Homo sapiens: one gene and its partners. The protein of the gene in region 5 purifies or fractionates together with the protein of the main gene of each other region. This does not show direct contact. Each region holds a gene or a part of one and is shown on either strand. Other genes may lie near its edges.

Evidence for each region.
Region 1: the proteins of LPXN (region 5) and MIB1 purify together in Homo sapiens (co-immunoprecipitation; 3 studies listed by BioGRID and IntAct, with this or other methods). This does not show direct contact.
Region 2: the proteins of LPXN (region 5) and PCNT purify together in Homo sapiens (co-immunoprecipitation; 3 studies listed by BioGRID and IntAct, with this or other methods). This does not show direct contact.
Region 3: the proteins of LPXN (region 5) and LIMD1 purify together in Homo sapiens (affinity purification with mass spectrometry; 2 studies listed by BioGRID and IntAct, with this or other methods). This does not show direct contact.
Region 4: the proteins of LPXN (region 5) and RBMS1 purify together in Homo sapiens (co-immunoprecipitation; 3 studies listed by BioGRID and IntAct, with this or other methods). This does not show direct contact.
Region 6: the proteins of LPXN (region 5) and GIT2 purify together in Homo sapiens (co-immunoprecipitation; 3 studies listed by BioGRID and IntAct, with this or other methods). This does not show direct contact.
Region 7: the proteins of LPXN (region 5) and CCDC6 purify together in Homo sapiens (co-immunoprecipitation; 3 studies listed by BioGRID and IntAct, with this or other methods). This does not show direct contact.

What each region holds. Positions count from the first base shown.
Region 1 is NC_000018.10:21,866,292-21,869,791, reverse strand, and holds part of MIB1 (E3 ubiquitin-protein ligase MIB1), read right to left. Parts: 3' UTR 1-3,500. UniProt on the Homo sapiens protein: E3 ubiquitin-protein ligase that mediates ubiquitination of Delta receptors, which act as ligands of Notch proteins.
Region 2 is NC_000021.9:46,439,156-46,442,655, reverse strand, and holds part of PCNT (pericentrin), read right to left. Parts: intron 2,574-3,500; coding exon 2,454-2,573; intron 1,802-2,453; coding exon 1,572-1,801; intron 160-1,571; coding exon 83-159; intron 1-82. UniProt on the Homo sapiens protein: Integral component of the filamentous matrix of the centrosome involved in the initial establishment of organized microtubule arrays in both mitosis and meiosis. Plays a role, together with DISC1, in the microtubule network formation.
Region 3 is NC_000003.12:45,678,251-45,681,750, reverse strand, and holds part of LIMD1 (LIM domain-containing protein 1), read right to left. Parts: 3' UTR 1-3,500. UniProt on the Homo sapiens protein: Adapter or scaffold protein which participates in the assembly of numerous protein complexes and is involved in several cellular processes such as cell fate determination, cytoskeletal organization, repression of gene transcription, cell-cell adhesion, cell differentiation, proliferation and migration.
Region 4 is NC_000002.12:160,284,308-160,287,807, forward strand, and holds part of RBMS1 (RNA-binding motif, single-stranded-interacting protein 1), read right to left. Parts: intron 2,778-3,500; coding exon 2,662-2,777; intron 738-2,661; coding exon 688-737; intron 562-687; coding exon 468-561; intron 1-467.
Region 5 is NC_000011.10:58,548,357-58,551,856, reverse strand, and holds part of LPXN (leupaxin), read left to right. Parts: intron 1-624; coding exon 625-792; intron 793-976; coding exon of another isoform or gene 977-1,060; exon of another isoform or gene 1,061-1,704; intron 1,705-1,710; coding exon 1,711-1,884; intron 1,885-1,989; coding exon 1,990-2,071; intron 2,072-3,500. UniProt on the Homo sapiens protein: Transcriptional coactivator for androgen receptor (AR) and serum response factor (SRF). Contributes to the regulation of cell adhesion, spreading and cell migration and acts as a negative regulator in integrin-mediated cell adhesion events.
Region 6 is NC_000012.12:109,979,369-109,982,868, reverse strand, and holds part of GIT2 (ARF GTPase-activating protein GIT2), read left to right. Parts: intron 1-342; exon of another isoform or gene 343-798; intron 799-1,689; exon of another isoform or gene 1,690-1,822; coding exon 1,823-1,917; exon of another isoform or gene 1,918-1,964; intron 1,965-3,500. UniProt on the Homo sapiens protein: GTPase-activating protein for ADP ribosylation factor family members, including ARF1.
Region 7 is NC_000010.11:59,900,057-59,903,556, forward strand, and holds part of CCDC6 (coiled-coil domain-containing protein 6), read right to left. Parts: intron 1-3,500.

The DNA of each region.
Region 1 (3,500 bases), on a different chromosome or scaffold from region 5:
TCATTTGAGGGGAAGACAATCTATGTTTCCCAAACAGATCCTCCTTTCATACTAAAATAGCAAACTGTGGCCTCGATCTCCTCTTCCCAGATGCTACTTATAGATGACTTTGCATAATAACTTAATTAGAATTACTTTTCTGGTAACAGTGTCACGGCCATAAATAATCAGTTTTTAAAAAACAAACATCAAGTGCAAATCTAGAAAACTTCCTTTAAAGAATTACCCAAACCCAGCACACATGCAGAATCATTATTAACAAGCTAAGCAATATGACTTTAAAACGTGTATATAATGATACACGTGCACTAAAGACCATCTTTTATAAAGTTTTAATAGTGTTGCCAAGTTAATAATTCTTTCAAGGCACTGGAGAATTACACAGATGGAGTTTCCAAAATATAACTGACAATTGCTTGAACTGTTAAAAAGCCCTGAGTCAGAACTTTCAATAACTTCCTGAAATTATAGATTGCAGACAAAATGGCACGTTTATTTTACTTTAAAAATTACAGGACCATTTTGCTTTTTGGAGGAAATAAGCTGGGTTTATGAAACAAATCATGCAGACTATACAGGAAAAGTAAAATATTCAGCATATGACCTTTCTTAGACATTTTGTACATGTCGATCACAACTTGTAGTTACAGATTTAGGCACCAAATTAATGTGACAAGTCACTTCTCCTGTACCTACTGCTTAAATTCTCAATGAAACAAAAATGTCAATTTTAACCTCAGGTTCCCATTTCCTCTTTACTCACAAATAAGAATAAATGCTGGAAAAAGTAATACTCTGACAGAAAAGGAGGTAGAAAATGCCAATGTAGCAATTTACAATTTTAATTCATCGGCTCTACTGTCTAGTTTACGTTTTTATACCAGAGTTTCACATACTACTAACCAGTAAATTGAGGCTCAATCTAAAGGATATTCCCCCTCACTGTAGTAAAGCAATGTACACGAGACAGCATTAAAGTTTCCTCAAATTTAATGTTTTAAAGAAGTACAACTATCATTATTAATACTGCTATAGTTATATATATGTTAAATTTCCTAGGCTATATATGACTATCAAGTAATATCAGTAAGCATTCCTATCATAATATTCAAGCAAATGAAGTAACGTTGCCTTTTTGAGGGAAAACATATTTTGAAACTTTTACAAGCAGACATAAAGACAGTTGACACTTCCAACAAGGCACACATAATTTATGAAAATCTATTATGTTCCCAATTGTACAAACTCAAAGCTAATCTAATTCTGATATTTAAAATGTGCCTCTCCCCTCTGGCTCAAAATGAAATAACAAACCCTTCCAATGAATAGACATTTAAAACCTACTCAATTTAATTGCTAACAATTCAGAGGAGAGGTGCACTGTCCCTCCCAAAAATTTTAAGAACTTAATGTTTACCATGACCTTAGATCTTGCAAACACAAACAACTAAAGAATTTAGGTGTTTCTTGATTTATATGGAGTCAAAATTCTATTCCACTGAGGAGAAAACAAAAAGGGGAGTTGTTTAATGGGTATGGAGTTTCAGTTTTGCAAGATGAAAAAGTTCTGGAGATCTGCTTCACAACAGTGTAAATGTACTTCACATGGCTGAACTGTATTCTTTAGAAACAGTTAATATGGTAAATTTTATGTTATGAGTTTTTCATCACAAAAAATACAAAAAACTATTCAAAAATTCAATTTTTTACACAAATTATTACTATAAAACATGGTAGACATTCTGATAGGATAAGTGCTTTTCCTTTTGGATTAAAAAAAGCAACCTGTATTAAAGCCTATAATTTGATGACATCTGTATGATCCTCTTTTTTTCTCTACACTCAAATGCTGACTTTCCTTTCCTATCTGTTGTAACCCCACTGTCCTGATCCTACTCTACCCCATCTCTAATTCTCTTAGTTCATGAATTTAACTAATTCTTAGTCCAAAAAGGGTCCAGAATTCAGAGTGGACAAACAGCAATTGGGCAACACATAGACAGTATGTTTCTACTATGTAAAAATGACCCAGCAAGTTTTGATATTTGAACCAGACACATCTTAAGCAGCATGCATTTCAATATGCTAAAATGCTCTTACAGGCTAACACCATAAAAATATAAATTTTAGAAATGTATTTCCAACATTAATTATCAATTAATTTTATGCTTCCATAGCTAGCTGGTCAATTTGCAATGTTTAAAGTTACAAATATCTTATGCATAATTTGACCAACTAAACATTTGTCTAATATATTCCTACACTAATACAAAATTATCTTTTCTTGAAAACCTTCTTGCTCCCAACAAAATTAAATATGTATATAGTATAAGCAGTAAGAACGTTAAATTACGTGAACAAATACCATTAGAACAGCACCATCTGGTATGTTGTATGTGTATGTTTTGAGTAACAACGCTAACAATCTTAGAAGAATAAAGGAGAAAATGGTAGGGTGAGGGATACAGAGAGGAAATCCAAACACTACTCAATGACAACTCTTCTGAAACGTTAGGAAATGTTATCAGGACCTTTGGATCTCTTCCTTTTAACTACAGATTCCTTAAAATACACAACTGCTGCACAATAAATTCTGAGTGTGCTAAGATGCCATTTTTCCACTGTTGTGTATCTAATCCCTAAAGCCCAATAAATACTTTTTTGAATGAATGCGTGTCAGTTTTTTTCTTTTTTATAAATGTTTCTAAGAAAAGTAAAAGCTCTTTTGAGGCACAAGATAAAGAGGTTTAGCTAATGAGCAGGGTAACGAACCTAACTGGAAAAGTACTGCTAAGGGACATATAATAAGAGGTAGCAGATTCAGAGAGTTGGAGGAAAGTCACTGAAATGATGAAGTTCTTAATCTTATTATCTCTCACAAACCCAAAATAAATTTAAAATAATTCTAAGTGATTGAAAACATGAATAAAGAAGTATTTTCTATTCATGGAACAAATTTCAAGGTGATACAAATACAGAAAACCCACAAGTACTAGCACTAAAATTATAATGACATTATTTCTATAATAAAAATTTATGTCATATTCTTATAAAGGAAATAATTAAACTAGTCTGGAAGATGCTATTACCTTTTAGGGATCTGTTTTAGCACTGCAGCTCAGAAAACAGAAAGGATTTGTTTAAGGAAAGTAGAGCTGGAGACCACACAATTCTCTGATTGGCCAAACTCTGCATGAGTCAGCCAGGTGCTCCCTCCTCACCAGGTGATCTAGTGGGAAGAGATGGGTAGCCCATGGCATGGAAGGAAAGGAAAAACCTGACATGCTGTTTTCATGTCTGCAACATGATAGTCTGTCTGTCTCTTTATGTGAACATCATCAGTCAGATGTTCTACCTTTTTATAACTTCAAAATAGTTTTAAAAACAGCGTCGGTGGCCCCTTATTAGATAACTGAGTGTACATGAATTTTCAAATTTGAAATCTATAAAAATTTTACTGTTCTAAATGATAGCAGTTACTCAGCTAAACACAGACATGG
Region 2 (3,500 bases), on a different chromosome or scaffold from region 5:
AAAAATGACCCAAAGTGAATGAAAAACAAGAGTAGAAAGAAAGGTTTGTGAGTCCAGCGGTCAACAGCAGCTGGAGTCCCACCTGGGCGAGGGGCTTTGCCTTGTGCCAGAGCTCCTTTCCGATCTACTTCTTGCCATTTCTTAACCAAAAAACGTAATCTACAAAAAAAAGAGACAAGACACACTTAAAAGTACGGCAAGACAGGAAGGGAAAGAGCAATGAAAACCCCACTGTGACCAAACAAGCAGAATGGGGGCCTCGCTGCCCATGGGGACCAGGACGCCAAGGTCGGCCAGTCTGTTGACTCGGGCCTGGCATGCCGGGTGCACACATCCAAAGTGCTCGCAGGGCTGCCGGCGGCGGCGACCTTCCCATGCCCAACCACCTGACAAAGCCTCACTGCGGCCCCACCGTGGACCATATGGTCCCCTAGACACCCACCATGGCCCAGCTCAGGACGACTCCAGTTCAAAGTCAGCCGGCCACACCAGTGACTAGGAAACACATGCCGCTCCCGCCTGGTGTGCAGGACCCTCCCATCTTCATCCTGTCACAGATGCCACTGGACAGGCTCAGAACACGGAGACCCCAGCCCTCGCAGGAGTCCGTCAGATGGTGAGCATGCAGAGTGCAGGTGACGAGGGCATGCAGGTCAGTGTGCAGGGCCCCAGACGCCCTGCTAGGATGGCCTTCGGAACAAGCATCATGCCTGTGGCTTCCCTCCTTTGAGGCATAGCAGACACTGCCGATTCCTCCATAAGACCTGTCAAGGCCCCTTGGTGGCAGCTACCCTAGGCAGTGCCCTCACAGGGACACAGAGACTGCTCCTTTCTGGGACACCACTGCCTTCAAAAGATCTCCCCTCCTCGACAGGAGGTAGGATCTGGGTCTGCTTACCTCCCCTATCTAGTGCCTAAAATGCTTCCTCCTGCAGGGTGTTCTCCCCATGAACACAGGATGGACAGATGGGTGGGTGGAAGGATGGACGGTGGAGGCCTACGGTCAGGGGAGCTCAGAGACGAGGAGACAAAGTGCCCCAGGACCAGAGAAGCTGAGAGTACAGCAACCCAGGAGGCCTCGCCTGCACCCCACTTTGGCCCAGCCTGCAGCCGCGATGACTGAACTGGCTCGGCACCTGGTCTCTGAAAGGAGCGGGATTCCTAGCTGCTCTCTGCTGCATCTGCTACTCCAGACAGGCCCGCGCGTGGCCTTGGGAAACACCTCTGTGGCATCAGGGAGCAGGCACAGCCGCACAGTGTTTAGGGGGAAAAACAGTTTTAGAAATTCAGCACGTTCTTTGTGGCACGAAACCCATTAAAAGTCAAGATGTTCCTCTGTAATACAAAGGTGCCCTTAAATCTTTAGTTTTAGAAGGTGAGAGATTCATACACATGACTTCTTGAAGACAAGTTCATCATCTGTATTTTCTCTAAGGCCTCAAATGCCATTCATCTTTAAAAAGAACATATTATGGAGTTTCAAGGAATAAAATGACCAAAAAACCATGCAGTGTGCTGCCCACTCACGGAGACAGACGCGGAACGCACTGACTGAACGTCATGGCATTTACCTTAATATTGCAATGACCACCCTGACGGCCGTGCGGAACCTGGTGAAAGGACGAGATGTGATTTTCCGTTCTGCTTTGGAAGGAAATACCCCCAAATGGGCAATCATGGAGAGTGTTTCTTGTTCAGAATCCTGGAATCCACCAATCAACAGCAAAAGATACTTCTTTTGATAAATCAGAGCTTTTCTAAAGCTCTCTGCTCTCAAGTAATGCAGGTACAATTTTTCCATCTAAAAGAAAAAAAGCAGTAAAATTTTATCATAGGAAACAAAGACTGTCTTGCTGACAAAAGCACATTAACACCATTGCTCTTTCCAAAGAGTCAGATTGTTTTTTCCCATCAAATCATCACAGAGCCATCGGCCTTCCAACAGTATCTGTGGCCAGAAACAACCTTGCTGTTGGAAGATCAATTTGTGTTTGTCAGACAAGATCTAGGACCACAAGCTCCTCTCCACAGCATCATCAAATGAGCCCCTATGAAGCTTCTTGCATTTCACCCCTTAGGTAAGGTCCAAACTGGGCATGAGATGGACGTCACGGGGTGGGGACCGTGTGCCATCAGGAGACTGCAGCAGATCTTGGGCCGAATCCCGGCAAGCCCCTGGGCCAGGCCTCCCTCAGGCTGCAGAGGCCGCCATTTGCTGACTTTGTCAAAGCCTTCCACGTTCCACGCTTAACAAGCACAGAAACTCAGTATTTGTGCACAATTAAAACAAAATTCAAGCCGAAGTTTATTCTGTGAACGTCCTTTCCTTTAGTGATGTGACTGCTACACCCGGCAGACGAGAACCTTGTGGTCACAAAAATGCTTTGCCTGCAATTTGCAAACCCAGGACTTAAAAAAGCACCAAAGTTCTATACTCGTGGCACCGTTCCTACCTTGACATTGCTGGTGTGTGCTTCCTCGCTGGCAGCTGGTGGAAGCCGGCCGGGGTCTGGGCGCCTCAGGGAACTCTGTGGAGCCGTTTCGTCTGGCTTCCAAGCAGACCTTTCCGACCTCTGTAAGGAAGCACAGCCAGCGCTGTCTACAGAGCTGCTCGTCAACAAGAGCATCTTAGAGACGCAGCCGGGGGCAGGTGAGGGAGAAGGCCATGTGCGGGGAGGCCAGGCTGACCACACCACACCTGGCCCCTCCTCAACTTCAGCACCCCCTCAGCAGGGCCTAGGTTACGCCGTGCTGTGATCAGCCAAAGAATTAACATGGAGTAATTACGACATGCCACTTGCTGAAGTATGATTGCAAAAAAGGTACATTTTAACAGAAACAGAAAACCAATTCTTTGTAAAATCACCCCAAATTCAAAGCTTTAAGCCTTAAACACTCTCATATTCTCCGGTCCTAGAAATGCCAACCACTGGTAACTACAAGCACAGTCAACTCTCGACAGCTGTGGGTTCCACATCCATGGATTCAACCAACTGTGGGTGAAAAATATTCAGAAAAAACGATGTGTCTGTACCAAACGTGTGCTTCTTTTCTTGCCCCTACACCCTAAACAATACAGGATGACAACTATTTACGTGGCATTTACACTGAATGAGGTGCTGCAAGTGATCTTAGAGATGACTTAAGAGTGTACGGGAGGACGTGCACAGGTTGCTGCTGACACCACTGCAGGTCAGGAGGCTGAGGCAGGAGGATCCCTGAACCTGGGAGGTCAAGGCTGAAGTGAGCTGTGACTGCTCCACTGCACTCCAGCCTGGGAGATGCAGCAAGGCCCTGTCTCAGAAAAAAAACCCAAAAAGTGAAAAAAGCCAGTTTAGGAGGTCCCAGACGGGCTGGTTCCACTGACACACCTTTCTGGGAGAGAGCCAGGGCCTGTGGCAGGCGGAGATGCCTGCTGCTCTTTTTGGGGGGGCCATCGCTGTGTGCTCTGTGAATGGTGGTTACTTATGAAGGTTACAGGGATGTGTGTGTGTGTGAAC
Region 3 (3,500 bases), on a different chromosome or scaffold from region 5:
ATTGCCAGGTTCCAGACTTATATTTTCAAGGATGTTTATCTAGTGAACAGTCTTGGATGACAGAGATAGTGTCTGTCTCTGGAGCAAAAGTCAGGCAGGCTTACTGCCCATTATCAAATACCAGGGTCCCCTAAGCATGGGGGTTCCTCTTGTAATGCAGCCCACTGCGTGTGCAGGTCTCACCTGGCCCTCTTCTTGGGGCCTGGGGCTCAGGGAACCAGTGTAAATGCTGATAATCTGGCCACTGCTATTGCTATAATAAACTGTCCTTTGTCTCTGACCTATGAGTCTCATAACTTCTGCCAGGATCCATGAACCCATGTGGTGTGCTCACTTTATTAGCCTGCAAGTAGGGTAAAATCTCATACCCTTCACAGGTTTGCTACCTATGTGGTACTTTTAAGAATCCAGAGCTGTAAAAGAAGACAAAGTCCAGGTAGCAAAAAACAGTTTGCTGACTCCACACACAGAAAAGACCCAGGAAATATAATGTTCAAGGAGCACTTTAATAGTCAACAAATTGATGCAGTTTTGTCACAATACTTTGCATAATTTTATAGTAACAGTAAAATTCTGAATCACTTTATAGTAAAAGAAAAGACACAGAGGAAAATAATTTCCCTGTACAATGAAATTTTCATACACTATATGAAGATTTCCCACATCTGTCAAGTTTTGGCTCAGAATAAAAGATAGCTAATATATTTCACTCTTTTTTCTGTTACTTTTTTTTTTTTTTTTGAGACAGTGTTTCGCTCTGTTGCCCAGGTCGGAGTGCAATGGCACCATCTCGGCTCACTGCAACCTCTGCCTCCCAGGTTCAAGCGATTCTCCTGCCTCAACCTCTCAGGTAGCTGGGATTACAGGCGTGCGCCACCAAACCCAGCTAATTTTGTATTTTTAGTAGAGACAGTGTTTCACCATGTTGGTCAGGCTGGTCTCTAACTCCTGACCTTAAGTGATCCACCCGCCTCAGCCTCTCAAAGTGCTGGGATTACAGGCGTGAGCCACGGCGCCTGGGATTACAGGCATGAGCCACTGTGCCTGGCCTTTTCTATTACCTTTAAAAGTTACTTCACATAGTAAAGAAATTAGGACTGATTCTTGGCATAAAGGAGGGTACAAAAAAAAATTGTGCCAGGTACAGTGGCTAATGGCCATAATCCCAACACTTTGGGAGGCGGAAGTGGGCAGATCACTTGAGCCCAGGAGTTCCAGACCATCCTGGGCAACATGGTGAAACTCGTCTCTATTAAAAATACAAAAATTAGCCAGGCGTAGCCAGTCATACACGCCTGTGGTCCCGGCTACTCGGGAGGCTGAGGTGGGAGGATCACTTGAGCCCAGTAGGTGGAGGCTGCAGTGAGCTGAGATCGCGCCACTGCACTCCAGCCTGGGCAACAGAGTGAGGCCCTGTCTCAAAAAAAAAAAGAAAAGAAAAGAAAATTTGGTTTCCTGGCAGATAGAGTTTTAACAAGCGCATCAAGCAGTAATAATTTGTGGTCTTGTGCTCAATTCTCACACATGATCTTTGCAAGCGTCCCAGCAGCCATCACAGCTCTACTTTCACATGCATGGGACACAGCACAGAGCAGCAGCCTTGAAAGGACTGCAAAGAGGTGTGAATTCCAAACATTCTCTTAAGTCCTAACATTTCTGTTCTTCATTTTGTGTGACAGAAGCCCATGGAAACAAGGCGATGACGGCGCTTGAGGGTGACCAGACCTCCTCAATCATTCCATCAGCCACCCAGGACTCAACAGCAGAACCTCAGAGGACTCAGCTGAAAGAGGTTTTCACTCGAGCACTAACCACAGAGAAATGGGAAGTGCCATCCTGCTGTCATACGCAGCCGATGGCTGGGTAGGACTAAATGCCCTTCTGTGGTGAGATGAACCAAGACGGCAGATGGGGGAATAACATCAGTGAGAGAGAGATTACGAATGGATCCTTGTATTGCAGATCAAACTGGGTTGTCTCTTCTCAAACCACCCAGGCAGTTTCTGAATGTCCCAAGATAGGGGTAGGAGAAAAGAAAAAAAAGACAAAACAGGAGACGGTGGGTAAGAAAACCTAAAAGGCACAATGAGGCAAAGGCCTAAGATGGAGGCTGGCTTTGGGATCTGAAATCCGGCCACAATCCTCCTTGTTTTACCTCAAGTCCAAGAATTGTCAAAAAGAAAACCCAGAAGGGCTATTCATTCTAAATTTTAAAATCTTTTCTTCCTGGCCTACCAAGTCCTTGTGTTTTCTTTCTAGGCGCCCATAAATACAACCCCATTACAGTTCTATTTGGCTAATAATTTACAGAACATTTAAAATACCGGGTAGGTGAACATCTCTTCATGGCTTTTGTGTAAGGGCCTGAAGCGAAGAGAAAAACAACTGATTGGAGATTCCTATCTGGCGCCTTCTCCAGGGAAACTGACAACCAGAGAAATCTGTTGCTAGGATTTCTAGGACATCTGGAAATTCCCTTTTTGTTCTTTCTCAACAATATAAAATGGTATATTCGCAAACCTATCTGAATCACCTCAATCTAGGCCACTTTGAAAATTTCATTTAAAAATGTAATCACAGATTTTTAAACTAATTACCCAATTTGCAAACAAATCCCAGCTACTTCTGGTCTTGAACATGGAGCAAAGGTGTGTCAGTAAGGCCAACATTCTTAGGTTGACAGAGACAGGTTAACACATTGGCTGGCTTCATTTACCCCCCTGCCACGCCCCACACTGAGCTGGATGATTTGATGGGAAGAGAGGGTCCCCACCTCAGGGTTCACTTCCCCAGCCCCAGCGTTCATGGGTTTTCAGGAGGCTCAGCCTGTGAAAAAGAACCAATGATGATGCACACCCTGGCTGAAGTGACATCTGGCCAAAGGATTCCAACAGAATGAATTCCATCAACATGGAAAAGATAATCCATGGCACCAATTCTGTGCTGCTTACAGGCAATGGTTACCAAATGAGTCAAAACATGGCCTAGAAGTGGAGCCGGGCCCAATGAAAAGCCTGAGTTCACACGTGCTAGGGGCTCCACTGACCGGCCTCTGCAGCCCAGCACCCAGTCCTCTTGCTCTGGGTGCAAGGTGAGGAGGCAGAGTGCACACACCGGCTCCTGTGTCCCCGGCCTGGCTGGCAATGGTAAAATGGGCTGCCTTTCTTTTGCAGCTTCTTCTAATCGAAATACCAAAGGGTACTGACCTCTGGCCTCAGGGATGTGACTTGCAGTGCAAATTTTACCTCTTCAGTGCAGAGAGTGGTCTTGAAATCTTGCCAGTGTGTGGCCCTCCCTCAGCTCCTGCCACCCTGGGGAGCCAGGATGCTGAAATGCATAAGGCAAAAGCACTGAATCGGATCTATTCCCCACTGACCTTTAGTTACGATCACTCTGCCCTGACCAGCTGGAGTTGGGCCTGTGTGAAGCCAGTGATTTCCAACACACTGAAGAAGGTATCTGAGTCCAGTGTGAAAGCCAAATTCCTCCTGAATCTGTGA
Region 4 (3,500 bases), on a different chromosome or scaffold from region 5:
TGTCAGCTGCATTGCTCACTTAATGCTACCTACTAGAGACACATCTTTATGTATTACCATGTTTATACTTGTTCTTTTATCAGTTCCTGCTGAAGAATAAACAAAAGCAAGGGTACACACCTATTCTGTATTATATCTAACGGCAATTATCTTAAGTTTCAATTTTTGGGACACATGGTGTCCAAAAGCAGGGCCCCTTGGTGAAGGAAGTGTTTGGGTTCATTCCAATCCAAAATGCTATGATTCCAAGGACTGACCACTGACAAACATTTTCCTTTGCTTTACATTCTCCTATACATAAATTGCTCTGCCAAATACAAAGCAGCTCATACTAAATTGGGTATCCAAGCTGCATAATATTTGACTCAAATTTCATAAACGCTCAAAATTTTAAGACACATAAAAATGTAGCAGAGATTCATGGTCCGCAAGTGGTTATACTGCTGACGAATCCTAAAGGTACAAACCTGGTAGGCAGATACAGGAGATGCAATATAGGGTGTAATAGAAGTTTGAGTGATCATTCGGTTTGTAGCAATACTGTATGGTGAAGGATAAAATCTAGAACAAACACAAAAGCCTTTATTAAGTAATCCTTTAAATAGAATAATTCATGGAACAAATGTCTGATATTTTCCACCTTCACATTTTCCCTCAAGCCATTATGGATTTATTTTAACGACATACCCGTTCTGTATAGCAGCTGTAGTTGGGTCGTAAGTAAGTGTCATTCCAGCCTATGGGAAAGAGAAAGAAATATAAACATTCATCTAGAAAGGCATGATTTAAAAATTCTATTTTTAGCCAGGTGTGGTGGTGTGCACCTGTAGTCCCAGCTGCTGGGGAGGCTGAGGTGGGAAGATCCTTTTGAAGCCCAGGAGTTCGAGGCTGTAGTTAGCTATGATTACATCACTGCACTCCAGCCTGGGCAACAGAAGGAGACCCCTGTCTCTTAAAAAAAAAGGGGAGGGAGGGGAATTTGTACTTAGAGTCTAGTAGCATTTGATAAAATTGGGAGTTTCTGTTAGTCAAAATGACTATAAATATGAAAATTAATCTCTGGACCTGCACTGTCCCATGTGATAGTCATAAGCCACATGCAGCTATTTAAAACTACATAAAAAATCAATCTCTCTAGCATACTAGCTACGTTTCAAGTGCTCAGAGAGCCACCTGTGGCTGGTGGCTGTTATTGGACAGTGCAGATTCTAGAACATTTTCCCTAGACATTCTTGGATCAATATGTTATTGTTTTTAAAATAATAATTCATGGAAAGTCAATACAGGGAAATGGACGTCCAACATTTTATTACGAAATTGAGAGTTTTAATTAAAAAAAAAACTATTCAAAAGAGAGGTGAAAAAAACCCCAACTCAGTGATAAATGTACTATTTATATATAAATATTTAGATTACTATTTAGGATAACTTCTAAATATTATAAATATAAACCCCTCTAAGAAACCATGCTAGCCTGGGCAACATAGTTAGATCCTATCTCTATAAAAATTTTAAAAAATTAGGCCGAGCACGATGGTTCACGCCTGTAATCCCAGCACTTTGGGAGGCTGAGGTGGGTGGATCATGAGGCCAGGAGATTGAGACCATCCCGACTAACACGGTGAAACCCCATCTCTAGTAAAAATACAAAAAATTAGCCGCGCATGGTGGTGGGTGCCTGTAGTCCCAGCTACTTGGGAGGCTGAGGCAGGAGAATGGCATGAACCCAGGAGGCAGAGCTTGCAGTGAGCGGAGATCGTGCCACTGCCCTCCAGCCTGAGCGACAGAGCAAGACTCCATCTCAAAAATAAAAAATAAATAAAAAAATAAAAATTTTTAAAAATTAGCCAGGAGTGGTGGCATGTCCCTGTCGTCTCAGCTACATAGGAGGCTGAGGTGGGAGGACTGCTTGAGCACAGGAGTTCAAGGTTGTGGTAGGCTATAACCACACCACTGGACTCCAGCCTGGGCAACAGAGACCATGTTTCTTCCTTTCTTTTTTTTTTTTTTTTATTTTGTTTTTTTTTTTTGAGATGGAGTCTCGCTCTGTTGCCCAGGCTGGAGTGCAGTGGCATGATCTTGGAACACTGCAGCCTCTGCCTCCCGGGCTGCAGCGATTCTCCTGCCTCAGCCTCCCAGGTAGCTGGGATTACAGGCATGGACCACCACGCAGGGCTAATTTTTGTATTTTTAGTAGAGACGGGGTTTCGCCATGTTGGCCAGGCTGATCTCTAACTCCTGATCTCAGGTGATCTGCCTGCCTTGGCCTCCCAAAGTGCTAGGATTATAGGTGTGAGCCACCGCGCCTAGCCTACAGAAACCCTGTTTCTGAAAAAAACCAAAAACAAACCCAAATCACTTGTGTTTTTCTTATGGCAATTTAGAATGCTCTTTTACTTCATGTGTAGCTAGCTGGTAAACACAGCTGCTTCCACCACCTATCGGTCCATCTGGAGAATCACTCTGTTATCACCATATATAATGAAAAGAATTTTAATTTGGCATCACTTGAATTATAATGTACCGAAAGGAAGATTTAATCCTGGCACCTATTTCAGAAGTGTGCAGCCAAGTCAAGATGCCTTTTTGTGTTACTTTTCATGTGGGCATTCAAGATCACACCCCCTCCCCCACCCCGCAAAGTTTCAAGAAAGGACTTACAAGTCTCACCTCTCCTTCTCTATGCCATGGTCTTCCATTAGGGATGTATTTGTTTGGGTTCTGTCTCTTTTTCTGTCCTCCATCAGCAAACTTACACAATAAAGGTTCTGTGGGGGCTAAGTAAACAGAGAAAAATAAAATGAAACCACAATGATACGTGTATGTGGATGACAAAATGTATTACAAAAATAGGAATAGTGTTCACGCTATTAGAAAATTCATACAACACTTTAAGGCAAAAGCAGTTTACTCAGACCTTTGTAAAACTGTCCACGATGAAAAACATAGTGCAGAAAAACATACTAGTTATTATTTCTGAACATTTAAATAACTATTCTGAGGAAGCAAAGGAATCTTTCGATTCACTTTCACACTTAAGAGTAGACACATTTCTTTTGGTTTTGGGCCCTCTCCAATTCCACCTCTGGACCGTCACCAAAATAATCTTCAAATTCAATAGGATTGTGCCATCCTCCCCTCCCCCAACTTAAAATGGTCCCTTAGCGTCCCATTATAATTCCTAAGAGGGACCCTTCACTTCTCCCAGTAGAAAACAAGCCACCTCTACACTGCTCGCACATATATTTTTATTCACAATTTGTAACAATTGGTGAGTATGTTTACTTGCTTGGTGTCTGTTTCCCCTTCTAGGCTATACGCCCCATGGGGGCAGTAACATTGTCTGTTTTGTCTATCACTGTATCCCCAGTGCCTAAGTGTCTGGACTTTGTAGTTGCTTATTACATCTTGGTTGCATCAGTGAATGAATAGAAATAGGTCTCATATGTTTATTTTTGGGATACGTCAGTGAAGATGGCTGTTGTGAGAAAGCTAAAAAT
Region 5 (3,500 bases):
AGTCCCAAGTATCTACTCAAATATTACTTCCTTAGAGGGGCCTTCTTTGATTATTACCTCCATCTAAATCAATTCTTCTTACCATCTTGCTGTGTCCCTTCTATCTCTTTCTATAACTTATCTCTGTCTGACATTACAACATATATTTATTTATTTAATTATTTATTGTCTATCGCCCACAGAATGCAATTCCATGAGGCCAGACACTTGGTCTGTCTTATCTTTGCTTTAATCCAAGTGCTTAGAGCAGTGATTGGCACAAACCAGGTATTCAACAATTATTGCCAAATAAATGAGTAAAAGGGAGATGTGACTAATTTTTGAACTGGGGTCATCCTAAGATCTTCAAAGGGTATCATCTTCATGTACTAAATTTCCTACATTAAGAAAAGATTTACAAATATAAAATTAGTCAGATTTCATTTGGCCTGAGGAGTTTAGGATGAAAGGGAGATGAAAAGATTTTTATTGGTGTTGAAATTTTAGATTTTTCCAATGTCTTGCAGGAAGGTTGGGGAAAGGCCAAGAGATCAGTCAGTAGAGGTGAATTTATAGAGTCATTAGAAGATGCCAATGAGAATAAAAATGAGGCTGATTCTGTTCTTGGTTCTTCCCTTGGGCCAGGTTGCAGTGAGAGCAGATGCTGGCAAGAAGCACTTACCAGACAAGCAGGATCACAAGGCCTCCCTGGACTCAATGCTTGGGGGTCTGGAGCAGGAATTGCAGGACCTTGGCATTGCCACAGTGCCCAAGGGCCATTGTGCATCCTGCCAGAAACCGATTGCTGGGAAGGTGAGATGGGCTGAAATTTTGGTCCTACAGCCTTCTTTGTCTCTCTCTGTCTCATCAAGGTTTGCTCTTTCCCCTTATATTTTAAGATATTTTAGTTAGCATTAATAATTACTAATCACTTACAGTGCTCTGGCCACTGAGCTAAGTGCTTTACAAGTATTTCCTCATTTAATGGTCACATCAGCCCTTCAAGAAGAATGATTGCTCCCTTTGTAAAGATGAGGAAACTGAGGACTCAGAGACATTAATGGACATATCCAAGGCATAATAAGAGGTAGAGGTAAGATCTGAAACCAGGAGACTGTCTCCTGAGTTTGAGTTCTTGACCATTTTTCTGTACTGCCTTTACTGAGATGACCTTTCTCACTGCTCCCTTTGTTCACACATTCCCAGTCTAAATTGATTGATTACAATTTTCAGCTGAACTCAGCTCCAAGTCACAGCTGCAAACTCCTGTTCTGCATCGTCCTTCACCGAAGCTATGATAAAAAGCTTTGAGACCTGACTGCATGGGGCGTGGAATAAAGTGTTCAAACTAGAGGAATAAAAACTGTCATTTGGCCTTTTCCTCTTCCAGGGGTCCCTTCCACACTAAGGCTACAGTTACAACTTCTCTGTCATCAATGTGCTATATGTTGTTTCTGCCACCCCCTGTGGCAGTGCAGTGGTTGTGAACATTTACAGGCTTTCATCACAGTGATCAGTCCCGGAAGTGGGCATCCTTTTATTATCAATCCATAAAGCACAGACCACAGATGGCCTTAGGTGGAACCTAGGTCTAGGCCTCAGTGTTGTATAATTCCAGGGCGTGTTGTCTACAAGGGGTACAATGTGAAGAGTGCTCCCTAGAGTTGTGCAACCTGTAGGCTGTAGAGCACTCAACTGGCCTCCTGTGTCAGGCTTTATTTCACTCCACAGGTGATCCATGCTCTAGGGCAATCATGGCATCCTGAGCATTTTGTCTGTACTCATTGCAAAGAAGAGATTGGCTCCAGTCCCTTCTTTGAGCGGAGTGGCTTGGCCTACTGCCCCAACGACTACCACCAACTTTTTTCTCCACGCTGTGCTTACTGCGCTGCTCCCATCCTGGATGTAAGTAAATCCCCGCTCCTCTCCAGCTTTCAGTCACTCACTTAGAACCAGAGTCATGCTTTACAACTTCTGCATCATTATAATATCTGTGTGTTCCCTTTCCAGAAAGTGCTGACAGCAATGAACCAGACCTGGCACCCAGAGCACTTCTTCTGCTCTCACTGCGGAGAGGTGTTTGGTGCAGAAGGTATGACCCGACTTGAGAGGCTGTATCCCACACCCCAGTGGGTAGTTATAAGACCAGCAACACCTTTCCTGGTAGTCACGGGAGTCCTGGTTCCTATCAGTACTATCAAAGTGCCCATTTCAGTACTAGATACCATCCCTCCCTACCTTTCTCCAACATTTATAATTTCCCTTTAAATTGATTTTTTAAATCACAGAAATACAAATGCATAGTTTAAAAACTCAAATATTACTTCAAGGGTAATATTGAAAAAGCCTTTTCTTGTTGAATATTGAAAAAGTCCCTTTCTCATCTCCAAATCCAGTTCTCCTCTCCAAATTATTTTAGCTGTTTCTTCTGATATTTACTTATTTTTTGTTGTTGTTGTTGTTTGTTTTTTTGAGACGGAGTCTCACTGTGTTGCCCAGGCTGGAGTGCAGTGGTGCGATCTCTGGTGCGATCTCCGCCCACTGCAACCTCCACCTCCTGGGTTCAAGCGATTCTCCTGCCTCAGCCTCCCAAGTAGCTGGGACTACAGGCACTTGCCACCACACCCGGTTAATTTTTGTATTTTTAGTAGGGACAATGTTTCACCATATTGGCCAGGCTGGTCTTGAACTCCTGACCTCGTGATCCGCCCGCCTTGGCCTCCCAAAGTGCTGGCATTACAGGCATGAACTACTGCGCCTGGCCTGCTTATGTGTTTTAAATAATAACTTTATATTGTTATAGATTGTTTTATTTTTCCAGTTTTAACCATTATGTATTGACTGTCTAAGAGGGAAGATGAGGTTTAGAAATGTTATTATTACCCCACTCACTCCTAACATATTTCCCCTCCCCTGTTTTTTCAATATATAATTATGTCATAATTACAGGTTAGATCAGTATTAAGTGTGCATATGTTGACAATCATAGAATACTGCTCACAAGTAAGCCATGTAGCAAACTGACTACACTAGAGTCTGGATTTTAGAGTCAGACTTCCAGGTTCAAATCTGGGTTGTGGTATTTGTTCAAGTCATTTAACATCTCTGTACCTTACTTTCCTCATCAGTAAAATAGTCCTAATGAAATTGCCTACCTTATAGGGTTGTTATGAGGATTTAGAGACAATACAAGCGTGGTATTTAGAATAGTGCCAAGCACATGGAGGTATAGTAGTGTTAATATTATTATCACAGTGTCCTTTTGGTATAAATTCATTTTTTTCTAAAGTTAACATTTGAATCCTTTTTGAAATTGGCTTAGTTTTTATTGTACTTATCACTAAGTTATGCAACAGAACTGTGAAATTCTTTTCAAAATGGCCAACTACATCTGGCAACAAGTCAGTTTCTTTCTTTTCTTTTTTTTTTTTCTGGAGATATCCCTCCAGGAGACTTTCCTCCTCCTGATTCAACATGAAATGATTTCTTCCTGCTGAGTAGCAGTCATTCTGGTTCATTAA
Region 6 (3,500 bases), on a different chromosome or scaffold from region 5:
TTCGAGATCAGCCTGGCCAGCATGCTGAAACCCTGTCTCTACTAAAAATACAAAAAAAAAAATTGGCTGGGCATGGTGGCAGGCACCTGTAATCCCGCTACCCGGGAGGCTGAGGCAGGAGAATCACTTAAACCTGGGAGGCAGAGGTTGCTGTGAGCCGAGACCATGCCACTGCACTCCAATCTGGGTAACAGGGCAAGACTCTGTCTCAAAAAAAAAAAAAAAAAAAAGTGCTCACTGTAAAATTATTTAAATTTTTCTTTATTAATAAAGTCCTTGAAAAATAAATCTATAGGTTAGTCTTGAATATCATTTAAATGGCCAAAGATCAGTCATCTTTCCTTCTTTTTCCAAAGTACTTTTATTAACTGTGAAGCACAATACTCTGTTCCACAGAGGATAAAATGGGTGAATAACAAAACTCTGCCTTCCCAGAATTTACTCTCTTGGAAAAGATGATTCATAAATGCCTGAAAGAGTTCAAGGAGGCAAGACCATATGGGATTCATTGCCAAAATAGATAATTGGTCTTAAAAAGCATATATAGGGTTTCTTCATTGTGGTCCAAATCATTTAAGAAATTTCTTCAGCTGGTCTTGAAGAATGGGTTGGATTTGAATGTGTGAAGGGAGAGCTGAAGCATTCCAGGTAAGAGGAAAGGCAGGAGTCAAGATCAGGAGGCAGGGAGGGACAAAGTGTGTTCAGCACAGCAGGAGACCTGACTGGAAAGAACAGAGTGGGTCTGGGAATAACAGCAGGAGTACAGTATTGCATGGTGCTTCATTATTTCACAGAGCACTAAAAAAGAAAAGAGTTCAGCCAATTAAATTATGGTGTATCATCAATTGTAGGACATTTCCTGATTTCACAGATACTAAAAAATGAAAATAAGATGTGCCTCTCACAAATCAAAGCTGTGTGGTAGGTTGAAGGGTGTTGTGAGTGCCTTGAATGGTGGGGAGAGAAGCTGGCTGAAACTATCAGGTTGGTGCAAAAGTAATTGCAGTTTTTGCCATTACTTTTAAGGACAAAAACCACAAAATATACTTGATCTTGGACGAGAGCCCTGGGTAAATGATACTTATTATCACTTACCTTGGAATTTTCGCACTTGTACCTTGCATATAATAATCTCAATATAATTTGTATCCTTGTTGCTGAAAGGATTCTAAGCAGCCTAAGTATTTATTTCATGGATGTTGAAAGGTAAACTTAATATTTTCTGTTGTGCAAATTGAAGATAAGGAGGCAGAAGTAGCTGCAGGCGTGAGCTGTGCGTTAGGTTGGCGTGTCTCTCACTGATTTGAAGCCTTTGAAGTGGTTACTAGACTCTTATCCAGAGTCAGACTGGCTGCATCAGCATCACCTAGGGGAAGGACCTTCTTCAACATATTGGCCCCTGGCCCCATCCTGTCCCCATTGATTCAGAATTTCCAAGGGTGGGGCCTGCACATGGTATATTTCTAGAAATGCGCTAGTTAATTTTTGAGAACTTCTACCGTAAACCATTGATTAATTTCATTTTTTTACCTCATTAAATTAAGTCATTCTGTATCCTTCCCTCTCATAAGTCTTTGAATTTCTTATTAAATATTCTATTTTGGCCTTAATAAAGGAAAGGCGATAGTTCAGATGGTGAAAACAGTTTATAAAAGTGGGATGCAAAGTAGACTTCAGAAATCTACCTACCACAAGAAGGTTGATGATTCTCAAAAGTCTTGTGTGATAAACTGCTCAGGTGTCTCAGGAGACGTCTTTGTACTCCATTTTAAAGTCAGTGAATAGTGAGCAATATAAATGGTACTTTGTTTTCTCTTGGTAGGCAAGGAGGGCACCATGAGCTGGCAGAGCGCCTCGTGGAAATACAGTATGAGCTAACGGACAGACTAGCCTTCTATCTCTGTGGCAGGAAACCAGGTGAGTGGATGGAGAATGACCGTTTCACATCTCCAGTTGGGAAGGTTCTAGAAAAACAAGTTGGGACACTATTTGTTATTACCTCCTCTGCTGTAACATATCACTGAGAAAGCTATACATATGGCTTTTAATTTGAAAGGATAACTACAGAATTGTCAGTTACATGTAAAAGATATAAAGTTGGACAAAACTCCTTAGATTTTTCATTTTTAATAGCTCTAGAGAAATGACTATTTCAAGAATCAGACTGAATAATCAAAGCAAAATTGAATGGGTACCACAGTTCTTGAACATGGTGGGACTAGGAATGTAGGAGCAAAGCAATAACCTTTGTAGTTATTTGAAAAATTCTTCTTAAGGAATGGAAAAAAAGTCCAGAAGTAAACTTTGCCAAAGCCAACTTGGCTATTTGTGATAGGGAACAGGGGTCAGCAAACCATGGTTTGTAGCCCAAATCTAGCCAGTTACTTGTTTTATTAAACAAAGTTTTGTATCGTGCCACTGCACTTCAGCCTAGGTGACAGAGTCAGACTCTGTCTCAAAATAAATAAATAAAAATAAATAAATAAATAAATAAAGCTTCTGCCGGGTGCAACGGGTCATGTCTGTAATCCTAGCACTTTGGGAGGCCGAGGCAGAAAGACTGCTTGCACCTAGGAATTCGAAAGTAGCCTGGGCAAGAGGGGTGAGACTCCGTCTCCACAAAAAAGTTTTTTAAAAAATCAGCCAGGCATGGTGGTGTGCGCCTGTAGTCCCACGTACTTGGGAGACTGGGACTTGAGCCCAGGAATTCAGGGTGGCAGTGAGCTATGATTGTGCCACTGCACTCCAGCCTGGGTGCAGTGACAAAGCAAGACCCCCAACTCTCTAAAAAATAAATGAATAAAGTTTTATTGCAAGAAAGCCGCGCCCAATTATTTATACCTTGTGTATGGCTGCTTTCACATAACAACAGCAGAGTTGAATAGGTTAAGTCGTTGCAACAGGCCAGATGGCCACAAAGCCTAAAATATTTACTATTTGGCCCTTTAAAGAAAATATTGGCCAACCCCTGATGTACAACATTCACATACATGTATGCAGTGATTCTCCATCCTGGTTGTATGATAGAGTTAAGAGCCTCTGGTATAGTTTCAGTTCTGGGTGAGATGGAGTAAGCACACCCCACCGTGTCTCCTGCAAAATAGAACTAACAGACCTGGACCAAATGCTTGGAGTAGCTAGCTAAAGACTCTGAAAAGTAAATCCTGGTTGGTAGATTAGGGAACTCAAAAGTGTCATCAGCTGGTGGTGAGTGTCCTGTTTGTCTTACTTCTGATAGGACTTCAATGACAGCCTGAAACCTGGAGGTACATAATGAGTGCAAAAAAGCCTTTTTCTGCGGGGTGCGGTGGCTCACGCCTGTAATCCCAGCACTTTGGGAGGCTGAGGTGGGCGGATCATGAGGTCAGGAGATCCAGATCATCCTGGCCAACATGGTGAAACCCTGTCTCTACTAAAAATACAAAAAAATTAGCTGGGCATGGTGGCAGGCGCCTATAGTCCCAGCTACTCGGGAGGCTGAGGCAGAATTGCTTGAACCC
Region 7 (3,500 bases), on a different chromosome or scaffold from region 5:
TGCCTCTGGAGCCAGCTCAACAAATTTCTGGGTGTTTCTCACATGCCAAGCACTGAGGAATGTGATGAACAAGGCAAATTCTGCCCCCAAAGAAATTTACACATGAACCGGGAAAGATCTCGATAGTCGAGTGTCAGTGACGTGGGGTGGGGGGGGTGGTGTCTATGGAACCACGGAAGTAGGTGCATACCCCAGTAGCAGGTGCATACCCCGGTGTGTGGCTGACAAAGAGGAAGTATCAGGGCATACCAGGAAGGGGTTCAGGTGGAGAAGGCAGTACAGTCTATTTCAACTGACAAGGTAGAAAAGAGGGGAGGAATACAGAAGAACATTTAAGGGGACGAGCGGCACCATTGAGGAGCCAGAGGAAATCTACTGAAGTTCTGGGTGCTAGTAGTAAAGGAGTGATGTGAGAGCTTAGAGAATGCACACTGGGCTAAACGCATGTAAGAGGTGTGGCTGTGAAGCAAGCAGGGCATTCCAATCATGCAGAGCCTGGTAAACCACCAGAAGGTTCACCTGGATCCAAGGACAATGGGGAGTCATTCAATATGTTTAAGCAAGCAATGGCTACCTTCAATTTTTGCTGTAGACCAGCCTCTCTGGTCCTGAACAAGAGTCACCACAAACCAGATACTGTGAATTCTCTAATGATTCCCCATCTCTAGCAAATAGGAAGCACTGTAAAAGACTGTCATGACCTTTAAAATTTCAGCTTTTGGCTGGGCATGGTAGCTCACACCTGTAATCCTAGCACTTTGGGAGGCAGAGGTGGGTGGATCACTTTAGGCCAGGAGTTCTGAGACCAGCCTGGACAACATGGTAAACACCACCTCCACTAAAAATACAAAACTAGGTGGGCATGGTGGCGCATGCCTGTAGTCCCAGCTAGTAGGGAGGCTGAGGCATGAGAATCACTTGAACCTGGGGGGCAGAGGTTGCAGTGAACTGAGATCGCACCACTGCACTCCAGTCTGGGTAATAAAGCTGTCACACACACACAAAAAAAACAAACGGTTTTTAAAAATTAAGTACAAATAGAGTATATGAAACACATAGAAGATACTTACAAATGTGAAAAAACTCGTAAATGCTGAAGAAATAGGAGAATGGCCTCTTTAAGAAGACTTGTGTACAGTTAGACCTAACTGTGAGGTCATATTTTCCTCAAAGTTGTGTCTAAAGTTGTGTGTTTCCATAAGAATCTAAGAAATACTTTTCTAAACGGGGGGAAAAAAGACATCACACTCTCATCGTCACATTTATAAAGGCAATATCGATTTGTAGCTTCAGAGTCTGACAAAAGTCTTAAAAATTGAAAATAACATATTAGACTTCCAGAGTAAATAATCCAAAATATACAACATCAACTATATGGCAGATTTTATTGGTTAATGAAACCATTACACTGTTGATGTTTAAAATAGCCAGGTTTTCTAATCATGCCAGACCAACATATTTTTCTATTATAACTTCAAAACACCTTGTACTTCTGTATTTCCCTTAACTTCTACAATAAAGGATTAATTTTACAGTCAGAGAGACACTTAAATATCAGTGATTTATTATAGGCCTTGATTTCCAAACCAAACACATACCAAAGGTCTGAAACTGCCTGGAAGAGGTACACACCCTAGAGAACCACCTGAGGCCCTGCTTATACACGGAGAATGCCAGCAACTAGCTGAGAACTTTGAAGCCATCCAATTACTGCCCACAATTGCATTTCCTCACCTTCTCTAAGACCACCACCCCACAATAACCCTCACTACACTGAATCATATAATCCACAATCACATTCTCACTCATAGGACAAACCAACAGATCTGGCCTAACATACAAAAGCTACTCAAAAAGGTGACTATGCATTTGTTTATTTCCCCTACTCCAAAAAAAAGAAATTATGATCTGTAATCAGTAGCCTGATTCCCCTGCTGACTTCATGGGGAAAATTGAATAATCACTCAAAATATTCTATTCCACTTTTAAGCCCCAAATAAAATGGCCTAGGGCAGGCTATAACTCACAGGTGCACTGGGCGCTTGTGGACACGACTGAAAGACTGCTTACTGTTGATTGTCTCCCACAGATGATGTTTACCACTATTATACAGATACTGAGAACACAGGCCCATGAAACTAGTCGTTCATTAAATGGGTAGTTTGACCAGAATAGCCGCTTACATACCAGAAGAGACCATTGGTTAAGAGCTTCTATTAGCCTTTGGACTTGGCTTTAAAAAGGGCATAACAGAGATATTACTATACACCTATTGGAATGGTCAAAATCTAGAACACTGACTACAGCAAATGTTGGTGAGCAACAGTAACTCTTTTTTTTTTTTTTTTTTTTTTTGAGATGAAGTCTGGCTCTGTCACCCAGACTGGAGTGCAGTGGTGCGACATTGGCTCACTGCAACCTCCACCTCCTGGGTTCACGCCATTCTCCTGCCTCAGCCTCCAAAGAGGCTGGGATTACAGGCATGCAACACCATCCCCAGCTAATTTTTCTGTATTTTTTTCAGTAGAGATGGGGTTTCACCATGTTGGCCAGGCTGGTCTCGAACTCTTGACCTGAGGTGATCCGCCTGCCTTGGCCTCCCCAAAGTGCTGGGATTACAGGCATGAGCCACCGCGCCCGGCCCCGCCAAAGCAACTCTTATTCACTGTTGGTGGGAATGAAAAACGATGCAGCCACTTTGGAAGACAGTTTGGCAATTTCTTATAAAACTAAACATACTCTTACCATATAATTCAGCAATCATGCTCTTTGGAATTTACCCAAATGAACTGATATCTTTCCAGACAAAACCCTTCATATGAATATTTCCAGCAGCTTTATTCATAATTGCCAAAAGGTGGAAACAACCAAGATGCCCTACAGGAGGTGAAGAGATAAATTATGATACATCCAAACAATGAAATACTATTTAACTCTGAACAGAAAACAAGATATAGGAGTTGGGGAACATGGAAGAAACTTAAATGCATTTACTAAGTGAAAAGTCTGCATACTGTATGATTCCAACTATATGACATTCTGGAAAAGGCAAAACTAAGGAGAGAGTAAAAAAAATCAGTGGTTGCCAGGAGTTTGCAGGGAGGGAAAGATGAACAGAGCGTGGAAGACTTCCAGGGCAGAAAAACTCTGCGTAATACTATAATGGTGGACACATGTCATTATACATTTGTCTAAACTCATAGAATATACAAGACCAAGTAAACTCTAGACTTTGGGTGATAATGATGTATCAACGTAGGTTCACTGACTATAACAAATGGACCACTATGATGAAAGATGTTGATGGTGGAGGAGGCTGTGCCCGTGTGAAGGCAGGGGTTACGTGGGAAATCTCTGTACTTTATGTTCAGTGTTACGTGAAGATAAAAGTGCTCTAAAAAAATAAAGTCTATTAAAAAACAAAACAAGTCGGGGGAAAAAAAGAGCCCGGCTCTTCCCCAGGGTGTGGCAAAAAGGCAATGTGTCTTCCTGAACTTGCT